Regions from separate parts of the Homo sapiens genome. Here region 2 is linked to region 1. The links come from fine-mapping of genetic effects on gene expression. A gene starts in region 1. The other region holds a variant in brackets. All regions are shown on one strand. Distances are between the middles of the regions.

The links. PIP is the estimated chance that this variant, and not a neighbour inherited with it, causes the effect.
Region 2: its variant is fine-mapped to the expression of VSIG10 in whole blood (TOPMed, PIP above 0.99).

The regions. Positions count from the first base shown.
Region 1 is chr12:118,101,574-118,106,941 of GRCh38, forward strand. It overlaps VSIG10 (V-set and immunoglobulin domain containing 10), which reads right to left and starts at 2,438. Exons shown (of 9, transcript NM_019086.6): 1 at 2,020-2,438. The coding sequence starts at 2,098. LOC124903029 (a long non-coding RNA gene) reads right to left here and starts at 2,009. Exons shown (of 2, transcript XR_007063478.1): 1 at 1,416-2,009; 2 at 32-694. RefSeq lists a silencer at 2,282-2,531 and an enhancer at 4,173-4,888.
Region 2 is chr12:118,066,076-118,071,388 of GRCh38, forward strand. It overlaps VSIG10 (V-set and immunoglobulin domain containing 10), which reads right to left. Exons shown (of 9, transcript NM_019086.6): 6 at 5,284-5,313; 7 at 4,977-4,992; 8 at 2,302-2,522; 9 at 1-619. The coding sequence ends at 564. All of the region lies in intron 1 of LOC124903030 (a long non-coding RNA gene), which reads left to right. Among named protein-coding and RNA genes, the nearest start is that of WSB2, 7.6 kb to the left of the region's middle. The variant T/G (reference allele first, on the strand shown) is at 2,695.

The DNA of each region.
Region 1 (5,368 bases):
TGCCCATGTATTATTATTTACAGAGTAGGAGTTATACCCAAACATTTATTTATTTTTTTAAAGCAACTTTTCCCAAGAATAACCTAGGATTTACAATCCGGGGTAGCTAGTGGATGCATATAAGTTGTCTGGCATTGAATGTCAGGAGAAAAATTTTTTTCCCCAAAAACTCCCAACTTAAAAAACAAACACACAACAAAAATACACCAAGCTCAGGAAGCCCCCTGGCATCATACACAAAGGTGAAGCAGGTCTGGGCATCAAAATAGCTGGGCAAAGGCCCAACACGGTGGCTCACACCCATAATCCCAACACTTTGGGAGGCCGAGACAGGAGGATCGCTTGGGTCCAGGAGTTTAAGACCAGCCTGGGCTCAAGCGATTGTAGAGACCGTCTCTACAAAAAAATTTTAGAAATTAGCTAGGCGTGGTGGTGCACGCCTGTAGTCCCAGCTACTTGTAGGCTGAGGTGGGAGGATCAGTGCAGTGATTGCACCACTGCACTCCAGCCTGGGCAACAGAGCGAGAGCCTGGCTCGAAAAAAATAGCTGGCCATAGCAGTGGAGATAGGTTCCCCATGGGGCGGGTGGCAGTCAGCCTGAAAGCCAGGTCATTCCAGCAGGATGACTTCATCCCAGGGTTCTTCTCACTTCCCAGGTTCCTGGTGTTCATCGTGCAGGAAACACTGCAAACAGCTGGGGAGATGGGAATACTTGACAACCACCTTTCACGTCCAGAGATGACCAACTAGGAACTGTCCTCCCCCATCACCCACACCCCAGCACAGTGATTACTCAGCCAAATGCCTGCAGGGCCAGCAGGTAACACCCATGACTGAAGGTGGCGGGGCAAATATTACAACAGGGAGAGGTGGAACAAATTTGGGCTCATATGCCCTAGATAAGAGGATGACCACTGCCCAATTCCAACTGGGAAAGCAGGCCCCGTGTTGCCAGACCTTCAGATTTTTCCAGATAAACTGGAAATCTAGAGATGTTATTGTTTTTAAATGGTTGGTTAAAAAAAAAAAAGCAAAATAAAATTGTATGAGCCTAATAATTAGGAACTCTTGGCACTTGCTGCTAAGAAGCTCCAGCATACTTTACAACCCATCTCCAGAAACGTGCAAGAGGAGACCCGTTGGGTGGAGCAGACCCGGGAACACAAAAAGTAGCGCTCTGCCTGCATCCTGGCAAACTTCACCACCTCCTGGCTCCATCTCCTCTCCCTGCACCCCAGCCTCCTCCCAGCTTGTCACACTCCCAGCACACAGTAGGCATGCACAGTAGGCATGCTGGTGAATTAAATTCAAATATATATAAATAGTTCAATCTTTTTACATTCTACATATTTTTGTAAGCACCCCTCCAATTCTTTTTTCGTAGCAAAGCAGACCATAGATGAAGCATTTCAGACCTTTTGTCAATCATGTCAAGTGTGAGGGGAAGTCTTTTGTAAGTCAGCCAAGTATTTCAAAATAAAAAGCTTTTCCAAAAGTAAAGGCGGAAGACCCCGCTTTGAAGGCGCTGGTCGGCACAGGAAGACTTGCAAAGGTGTGTAGGGAAGTCCACCGGTTACAGGTGTAAGGCGAGTTCAACCTTGGGCAGAGGGAGGAGAAAAATAAAGTGGGAGTCTCGAGTTTGAGCACCAGCGTATCAGTTACTACTAAAACCAGAACGCGAATTTACATCCGACGCTTAAAAAAAAAAATCACTTTCCCGGCACACGTGCCTCTTTACTTTGCCCCCGCACGTCGGCTCGGCTCGGCTCCTCTGCAGCCTCACCGGCTGCCCACCCCAGGAGGCTGGGGGTATCTCGCCCCGCACCGGGCGCCCGGGAAAACTCCTTCCTGCAAAGACGGCCGAGCTGCGAGCAGGAAACCAAGACCCTCCTGGGGCAGCTTCTAGGCTGGGGCCACCACGGATCCGGGCGGAGTCGGAGGGAATTGGGTCTCTCGCTGTCCCCTCCCCACCGCTGACTGGGAAAACTCAACTTTTCCCTCCAGATCGCGGCCCCTTACCTACGGCGACCCAGCCGGCCAGGAGCGCCCCGAGGCAGACGAGGACGCGGGGCTCGGGCGCACTGCCGCCTGCGGCCATCTCGCCCCAGATCCCGGCTCAGGAAACGCAGGCTCGGGCTGGGCTGGACGTGTGTGCCCCAGGGCCCCGGGGCCCGGGGTACCGAGGGCTCCTCCCAGGTCCTCGGAACGGCAGAGTGGCCCCACTTCCTCGGCCCCCAGGAAGGATGCTTGGCTGAGCCGAGTGTCCAGGGCCGGCAGCGGAGCTCGGCTGCAGGCTCGGGTCCCCGCTCCCGAGCGCCCTGGCCGGGGAGGGAGGGCGCACCCCGCCCCCTGCGCCCGCCAGCCTACTCCTGCCGGCGGAAAACAACAGGAGCGGGATCCCTCCCGCCTCCCAGCCAGGCGGGAGCCCAACTTCCTCTACCTTGGCCCGGGAGGAGGGCTTTCTGCCGAGGGCGCGCCGAGCCGGGTCCCGCCGGGCCAGGGGCGGGGCGCGGAGGCTGGGCCCTCCCCAGTCCACTCCGCCCGGGACAGCAGTACCGAGTCGCGGGGACAGCGGGCGGGACGGAGCCCTGCAGCTGCCGCAGGACGCAACCCCCGCCGCTGCCCCGGGCTGCAGAACCCGGAGGAAGCGGTTGCCAAGCTGCAGAACGCAGGACCCCCCTGGCAGTCCCCGCTGAGCGTCTCGAGGGATTCCGGTCTGTGTCCCTGGGCGCAGGGCGGGCGCCAAGGCCGCCATCGCTTCCTTTCCTTACCCTCTGCAAAAGGGAGCCAGAGAAAGATGATCCCCTGACTTTCAGCCAAAGCAGCCACGAGACTCCGGTTCTCCAGTGAACTGGCTGGGACCACACAGTGACAGCGAGAGCCAAGGAGTCCCCAGGACGTGTTTCTCAAGAGTTTTGTTTTTGCTTTTCCCCTTTTAGTTCTCCCACCCCTTACCCAGTCAGATTCCCAGGCTAAGCTCCTCTCTTCCCTGCCATGCCCTCATCCCATTCTGTCCTGGGGAAAATGCGGCTTTGATATCCTCAGGAAGAGCCATCCATAAAACAGCCCTAGGAGAAACTTCCTGTTTCAAATAATAATAATATGGCAGGGCGTGGTGGCTCACACCTGTAATCCCAGCACTTTGGGAGGCCGAGGTGGGCGGATCACAAGGTCAGGAGTTCGAGACCAGCCTGACCAACATGGTGAAACCCTGTCTCTACTAAAAATACAACAATTAGCCGGGCATGATGGCGGGCGCCTGTAATCCCAGCTACTGGGTAGGCTGAGGCAGGAGAATCGCTTGAACCCAGCAGGCGGAGGTTGCAGTGAGCCGATATCACGCCATTGCACTCCAGCCTGGGCGACTGAGCGAGACTCCATCTCAAAATAAATATTAACGTTAAAAAAAAATCATTAGTTCTGTTGTTCAACGGTCCCCTTATTGAAATGCTTCTTCCATGAGGAAATCCTCTTGAAACCACTTTAAAAAAAAAATGTTTCTCCTGGTGAACTGAGCAATGAAGCTGAACAGTTCTGCCTTTTTTACTTTTCTGTTTTTTATTTTTTTGAGACAGGGTGTCACTCCAGTTGCCCAGGCTAGAGTGCAGTAGCACAATCATACCTCGCTGCAGCCTCAAACTACCAGGCTCAAGTGATCCTCCCACCTCAGCCTCCCGAGTAGCTGGGACTACAGGTGTGCAGCACCACGCCCAGCTAATTTTTGTAATTTTAGTAAAGACAGCGTTTCTCCATGTTACCCAGGCTGGTCTCGAACTCCTGACCTCAAGTGATCCACCCGCCTTGGCCTGCCAAAGTGTTGGGATTACAGGTGCGAGCCACCGCGCTCAGCCCTTTTTTATTCTTTGCTCAAATATTTTTAAATAACTGTTCATCAGCCGGGCACGTTGGCTCATGCCTGTAATCCCAGCACTTTGGGAGGCCGAGGCAGGTGGATCACCTGAGGTAAGGAGTTCGAGAGTAGCCTGGCCAACATGGTGAAACTTCGTCTCTACTAAAAATACAAAAATTAGCCCGGTGTGGTGGCAGGCGCCTGTAATCCCAGCTACTTGGGAGGCTGAGGCAGGAGAATCGCTTGAACCCAGGAGGTGGAGGTTGCAGTGAGCCGAGATCGCGCCATTGCACTCCAGCCTGGGGAGAAGAGCGAGACTTCGTCTCAAAAAAAATAAATAAATAAAAAATAAAATAAAATAACTGTTCATCAGATTCTTGACAGGAATTTTGTTTGTTTGTTTTTTGAGACGGAGTCTCGCTCTGTCGCTGCAAGCTCCGCCTCCCAGGCTCATGCCATTCTCCTGCCTCAGCCTCCCAAGTAGCTGGGACTACAGGCTCCTGCCACCACGCCCGGATAATTTTTGTATTTTTAGTGGAGACGGGGTTTCACCGTGTTAGTGTGGGGAAAAGCAAGAGAGATCAGATTGTTACTGTGTCTGTGTAGAAAGAAGTAGACATGGGAGACTCCATTTTGTTATGTACTAAGAAAAATTCTTCTGCCTTGAGATTCTGTGACCTTACCCCCAACCCCGTGCTCTCTGAAACATGTGCTGTGTCAAACTCAGGGTTAAATGGATTAAGGGCGGTGCAAGATGTGCTTTGTTAAACAGATGCTTGAAGGCAGCATGCTCCTTAAGAGTCATCACCACTCCCTAATCTCAAGTACCCAGGGACACAAACACTGCGGAAGGCCGCAGGGACCTCTGCCTAGGAAAGCCAGGTATTGTCCAAGGTTTCTCCCCATGTGATAGTCTGAAATATGGCCTTGTGGGAAGGGAAAGACCTGACTGCCCCCAGCCCGACACCCGTAAAGGGTCTGTGCTGAGGAGGATTAATATAAGAGGAAGGCATGCCTCTTGCAGTTGAGACAAGAGGAAGGCATCTGTCTCCTGCCCCTCCCTGGGCAATGGAATGTCTCGGTATAAAACCCGATTGTACGTTCCATCTACTGAGATAGGGAAAAACCGCCTTAGGGCTGGAGGTGGGACCTGCGGGCAGCAATACTGCTTTGTAAAGCATTGAGATGTTTATGTGTATGCATATCTAAAAGCACAGCACTTAATCCTTTACCTTGTCTATGATGCATAGACCTTTGTTCACGTGTTTGTCTGCTGACCCTCTCCCCACAATTGTCTTGTGACCCTGACACATCCCCCTCTCGGAGAAACACCCACGAATGATCAATAAATACTAAGGGAACTCAGAGGCTGGCGGGATCCTCCATATGCTGAACGCTGGTTCCCCGGGTCCCCTTATTTCTTTCTCTATACTTTGTCTCTGTGTCTTTTTCTTTTCCAAGTCTCTCGTTCCACCTTACGAGAAACACCCACAGGTGTGGAGGGGCAACCCACCCCTT
Region 2 (5,313 bases), 36 kb before region 1:
TCCTCTGATTGGCATTGGTACCTGGAACTTCACCTGTTCCAAGGAGCTGATATTTGCAAGGTGCCGTGGCTGAGGCAGGAGAATCGCTTGAACCTGGGAGGCAGAAGTTGTGGTGAGCCAAGATCGTGCCATTGCACTCCAGCCTGGGCAATAGAGGGAGACTCCGTCTCAAAAAAAAAAAAAAAAAAAAAAAAAAGCGGCAAAAGGCACCAAGACCCAGTGCTTCCCTGACCTCTGTTCCCTCTAAATCAGCATCTATCACAGTAGATCAACCTGGATAAAGCCAGGATTCACAGCAGAAGTGGCACCTCAGACACCAAAGCAGCTTTCCTTCTCAAAGCTTTTAAACATCATTGGGAAAACTTAGAGCAAATCAAACCAATGTTTTTCAATACATGGAAGGAAAGATGTGTGTGCTTGGTTTTGTTTTTTGCTGAGACCCAAACATTGTTAGTGCAAGCCCCCGCCAGGGGTGCAGGTGGAGTCAAAGCTGAATGAAGAGCTCGTCTTCAATGTAGCTCTCCAAGCTTTCAGAGCAAGACAACCATGGACCATCCTCTTCTTCAGACTGGCCTGTCTTCTTCTTGAACAATGTCACTTTGCTCCTCACTGCTGTCATCTGTATGGGGGGAAATAAACCCAATGCTTTGTAATCAGAGTGTGATTCTATTTCCACCGTCAGTCATCAATCATCTCAGTGATTTCTAGTCCTTTCCTGGTGAGCCACAGAATGGGATCTCATGGAGAAGGTAGGGCAGCGTGTGTTTTCCCCTTTTCACCTGTTTTCTACATTCAGAACCTCTAGGCATGCTTGATACCAGTCACCCTTCATGTCCTCAGCTCACGCCCCTCCCCTCACCTGAAACGCCCTCTCTCCTTTCTGCTTATTCCAACTCAGCCGTCTTAACGCCTTGCTTCATGTCTACCTCTTCCATAAAGCTTCCCCTGACCAGCACACCTCTCCGGGCTCTTATCTTTCTCTGAGGTCCTATAAATTTTGGTGCAGTGGCACGATCTCATCTCACTGCAGCCTCAACTTCCCAGGCTCAGGTGATTCTCCCACCTCAGCCTCCCAAGTAGCTGGGGCTACAGGTACATGCCACACACCCAGCTAATTTTTTGTATTCTTAGTAGAGACACGTTTTGCCATGTTCCCAAGGCTAGTCTCGAACTCCTGAGCTCCAGCGATCCACCCACTTTGGCCTCCCAAAGTGCTGGGATTACAGGCATGAGCAACCGTGCCTATAATTTTTAAATGTGTTGTCCATCAGGCAATTAATCAAATATCTTCCTGCAACAGCTCCTCTACTGCTCTCTCAGTGTGTTGGTTCAATCTTGCTCCTGTTTCCATTTCCCCTGCAGGTTTTAGTTTGTTCCCCTAAACTGGCCTTTTTTTTTTTTTTTTTGAGACAGAGTCTCACTCTGTCACCCAGGCTGAAGTGCAGTGGCACGATCTCGGCTCACTGCAGCCTCCGTCTCCCGGGTTCAAGTGATTCTCCTGCCTTGGTCTCCCAAGTAGCTGGGATTACAGGCACCTACCACACCCAGCTGATTTTTGTATTTTTAGTAGAGATGGGGGTCTCACCATGTTGGCCAGGCTGGTCTCAAACTCCTGACCTCAAATGATCCACCTGCCTCAGCCTCCCAAAATGCTGGGATTATAGGCGTGAGCCACCGCACCTGGCCTGAACTGGTCTTGTAAAGCTCCCTGCATGCAGACACTACCAGTCTCTATTTTCTGTTCTCCCACAATGCCAATATTGTGCCTACCCTAGACCAGGACCTTGATAAGTGTTTGTCAATTTGATTTTCATGTTGGTAGTTGATAGTAGTCTCAGGTTCTAGACTAAAGTTTAGCTATCTTCCCCAGCCTTTTAAAAAAACTAAACTCACCCCTTAGAGATTTCCTGCTGGGAAGCTCACCGCAGCAGTTCAGAGGTTTGTGGGCTTTTTTTTTTTTTTTTTTTTTTCTGAGGCAGGTTTCCTACTGCTGCCCAGACTGGAGTGCAGTGGTGTGATCATAGCTCACTGCAGCCTGGACTTCCTACACTCAAGTGATCCTCAGCCTCCCAAGTAGCTGGGAACACAGGTGCACACCACCATGACCGGCTAATTTTTCTTTTTTTTTTTTTTTTTTTTCGTAGAGACAGAGTCTCACCATGTTGCCCAGGCTAGTCTTGAACTTCTGGGCTTAAGTGATCTTCCCACCTTGGCCTCCCAAAGTGCTGGGATTATAGGCGTGAGCCAACGCGCCTTTTTTTGTTTGTTTTCTGTTTGTTTGTTTAAGGAAAAAGAGCTTACCTTGAAGATCCTGGAATCCATTTCCCATCTGTTCTATGTTCCCATTCACCAAGGCGGTCACTCTGTGAATGTGGTCCTGCTTAGGTATTTCTTTTGGCAACTCCTCTCTCTCACGTGCTCCCTCCTGTTCCCCTACTGCAGCATCTTCCTCCTCCTCCTCCTCCTCCTCCTCTTCCTCTTCTGAATCCACCAAAACCATGACATCATCCATGTTTTGTCCCCTAATTTCCAAAGGGGAAAAATAATCAAGAAGATTTCTTATTTTTCCCAACTTCAGCCCTCACTGAATAGGAAACACTAGATTCTTTGCAACCCCATTAGTAATATGGAAAATTACAGCTTGGTGAAGTAATGAGGTGATGGTGTGGTAACCGCAGAGATGCTGCCACAAAT[T/G]GCTTCAGATGATGGTATCTCATGCTGGTTTATTACTCCCCTGCTCCTTGGGCAGGTGACCATATTGTCCCAGGCATCTACCATTTCATGTCCCCTTACAGCAGGTAGACAAATGTTTTTCCTTTTCTGAAATGCCCTCATTCTGCTCTACTTACCAAAATCTCTCCCCTTCCTCATTTTGGAAGACCCAGGTAAAGTCCTCTCCCTCCTGCTAAAGACCTAAATTAATGACTGCATTTAGAGTCCATGCTATAGTTTATTTATCACCAGCTCACTAGCTTGCCTACCCAGCCAGACTTTGCATTTCAGACTATACATTTCTTTTTTTTTTCTTTTTCGGGATAGAGTCTTGCGCTGTTGCCCAGGCTAGAGTGCAGTGGCGCAATCTTGGCTCACTGCAACCTCCACCTCCTGGGTGCAAGCAATTCTCCTGCCTCAGCCACCCAAGTAGCTGGGACTACAGGCATGCGCCACCACATCTGGCTAATTTTTGTATTTTTAGTAGAGACATGGTTTCAACATGTTGGCCAGGCTGGTCTCGAATGCCTGGCCTCAAGTGATCCAACCACCTTGGCCTCCCAGAGTGCTGAGATTATAGGCATGAGCCACTGTTGTGCCCGGCCTGGACTGTGCATTTCTTCTTCTTCTTCTTCTTCTTTTTTTTTTTTTTTTTGAGACAGAGTTTCATTCTTGTTGCCCAGGCTGGAGTGCAATGGCACAATCATGGCTCACCGCAACCTCTGCCTCCCAGGTTCAAGCAATTCTCCTGCTTCAACCTCCCAAGCAGCTGGGATTACAGGCATGCGCCACTACATGCGGCTAATTTTTTGTATTTTTAGTAGAGATGGGGTTTCTGCATGTTGGTCAGGCTGGTCTCGAACTCCCGACCTCAGGTGATCCACCCGCCTCGGCCTCCCAAAGTGCTGGGATTACAGGCGTGAGCCACTGCACCCGGCCTGGACTATGCATTTCTTAAGGAAGAAGAATGAACGCCACAGGTCAGTCACCTGCCCGAGGAGCTGTGTTACATTGTCATTTAATCTTCACAAACCCCCTGGTGAAACAAATCAGGAGACTAAGGCTCAGAAAGGGTCAGGGATTTTCTATGGGTACAGGGCTTGGGAATGGCACAGCTGTCATTTGAACCCAGGTCCAATGGTCTCAGTGCCTTTTCCTACTACACCACACTGATGCCTCCAGTGAGAAATAAGCCCAGGGAATGACAGACTTACTAAGAATGGCCCTCCAATACAGGGCAGTAAAGGTAATGTTTTGCTACGAAAGATGGTCCCAGGTCAATAATATCCTGTCATTTTGAAGAGGTAAAGAACTGTTTTTCCATAGGATCATAGAGAAGAGTACTCTGCTCCCACCCAGAATCTCCTTAGGAAATGAAATACACAAGTTCCGTTTGGTTCCTTCGCCCCTACTGGGGTTTCCTTTTGGGAGGGGGTTCTGGGCATGCTCATAGTAGTCTTCCAAAACACTGTAAAACTGGCTGGGTGCAGTGGCTCGTGCCTGTAATCCCGGCACTTTGGGAGGCCGAGGCGGGCAGACCACTTGAGGCCAGGAGTTTGAGACTAGCCTGGGCAACATGGTGAAACCCTGTCTCTACTAAAAATACAAAAATTAGCCAGGCTTGATGGTGCGCACCTGTAATCCCAACTACTCGGAAGGCTGAGGCAGGAGAATGGCCTCAACCTGGGAGGTAGGGATTGCAGTGAGCTGAGACTGCACCACTGCACTCCAGCCTGAGCAAGAGAGAGAGATTCTGTCTCAAAAAAAAAAAAAAAAAGAAAAAAGAAAAAGAAAAAAAAACTTAAGACTATGACTGATTCTTTCTTTTAGCTCTTTTTAGAAAATTAAATAAAACAAATGCATGAATGACTGGCTCAAAATGTACACATTGTCTTTCTGTCTCAATGACAGACCTGCAATGTGTCCAGCCCTGAGGTTTGGCGCTGTAAAAGAACACAGACTTTGGAATTGATTAGACCTGGACCTGAAGGAAGGCACTGCTGCTTTCTTCTGGAATGAGCTTGCAGAAATTACTTCACTGAGCCTCCATCCCCTTATCTGGAAAATGGAGATGTCACCACCACCCTGAGGAGATGATGAAAGGGTTTATAAGAATACCTGATGAAATCCCTAGGCCAGTGTCTAGCACATCGTAGGTCCTCAATGGTAGTTGCTATTATTGTTCTTGTGAAAGGAAGGGAACAAAACAGAAGTGAAGACAGATGCGGGAATGGGTGTTTGGTTTGATTCTAGGGAACACTCACCTGGAAGTGTTTCCTACTGAAGAGAGAAAGGAAAAACCATTAATATCCAGTAACATCCACTTCAACCTGACAGGTTCTTAATCAGGCAAACATTTACTAGAGGAACAAATAAGAAAACTGACTCAATATGACAGGTGATAGGGTGTCCCGGGATGGTACTTAGGTGACTTATTACTGTGTATCTTGACCCAGCAAAGAAGCCCAGAGAACAGAACTTCAGGTGGGAGCAAGGCAGGGGCCATCCTTCCCCATCCCGCACCTTTTCAAAAGTCTGGAAGAGAAGCTAAAGGACCCAGGGAGTCCTTACCTTTCCAGCAGAACACAGGGCTATAATGCA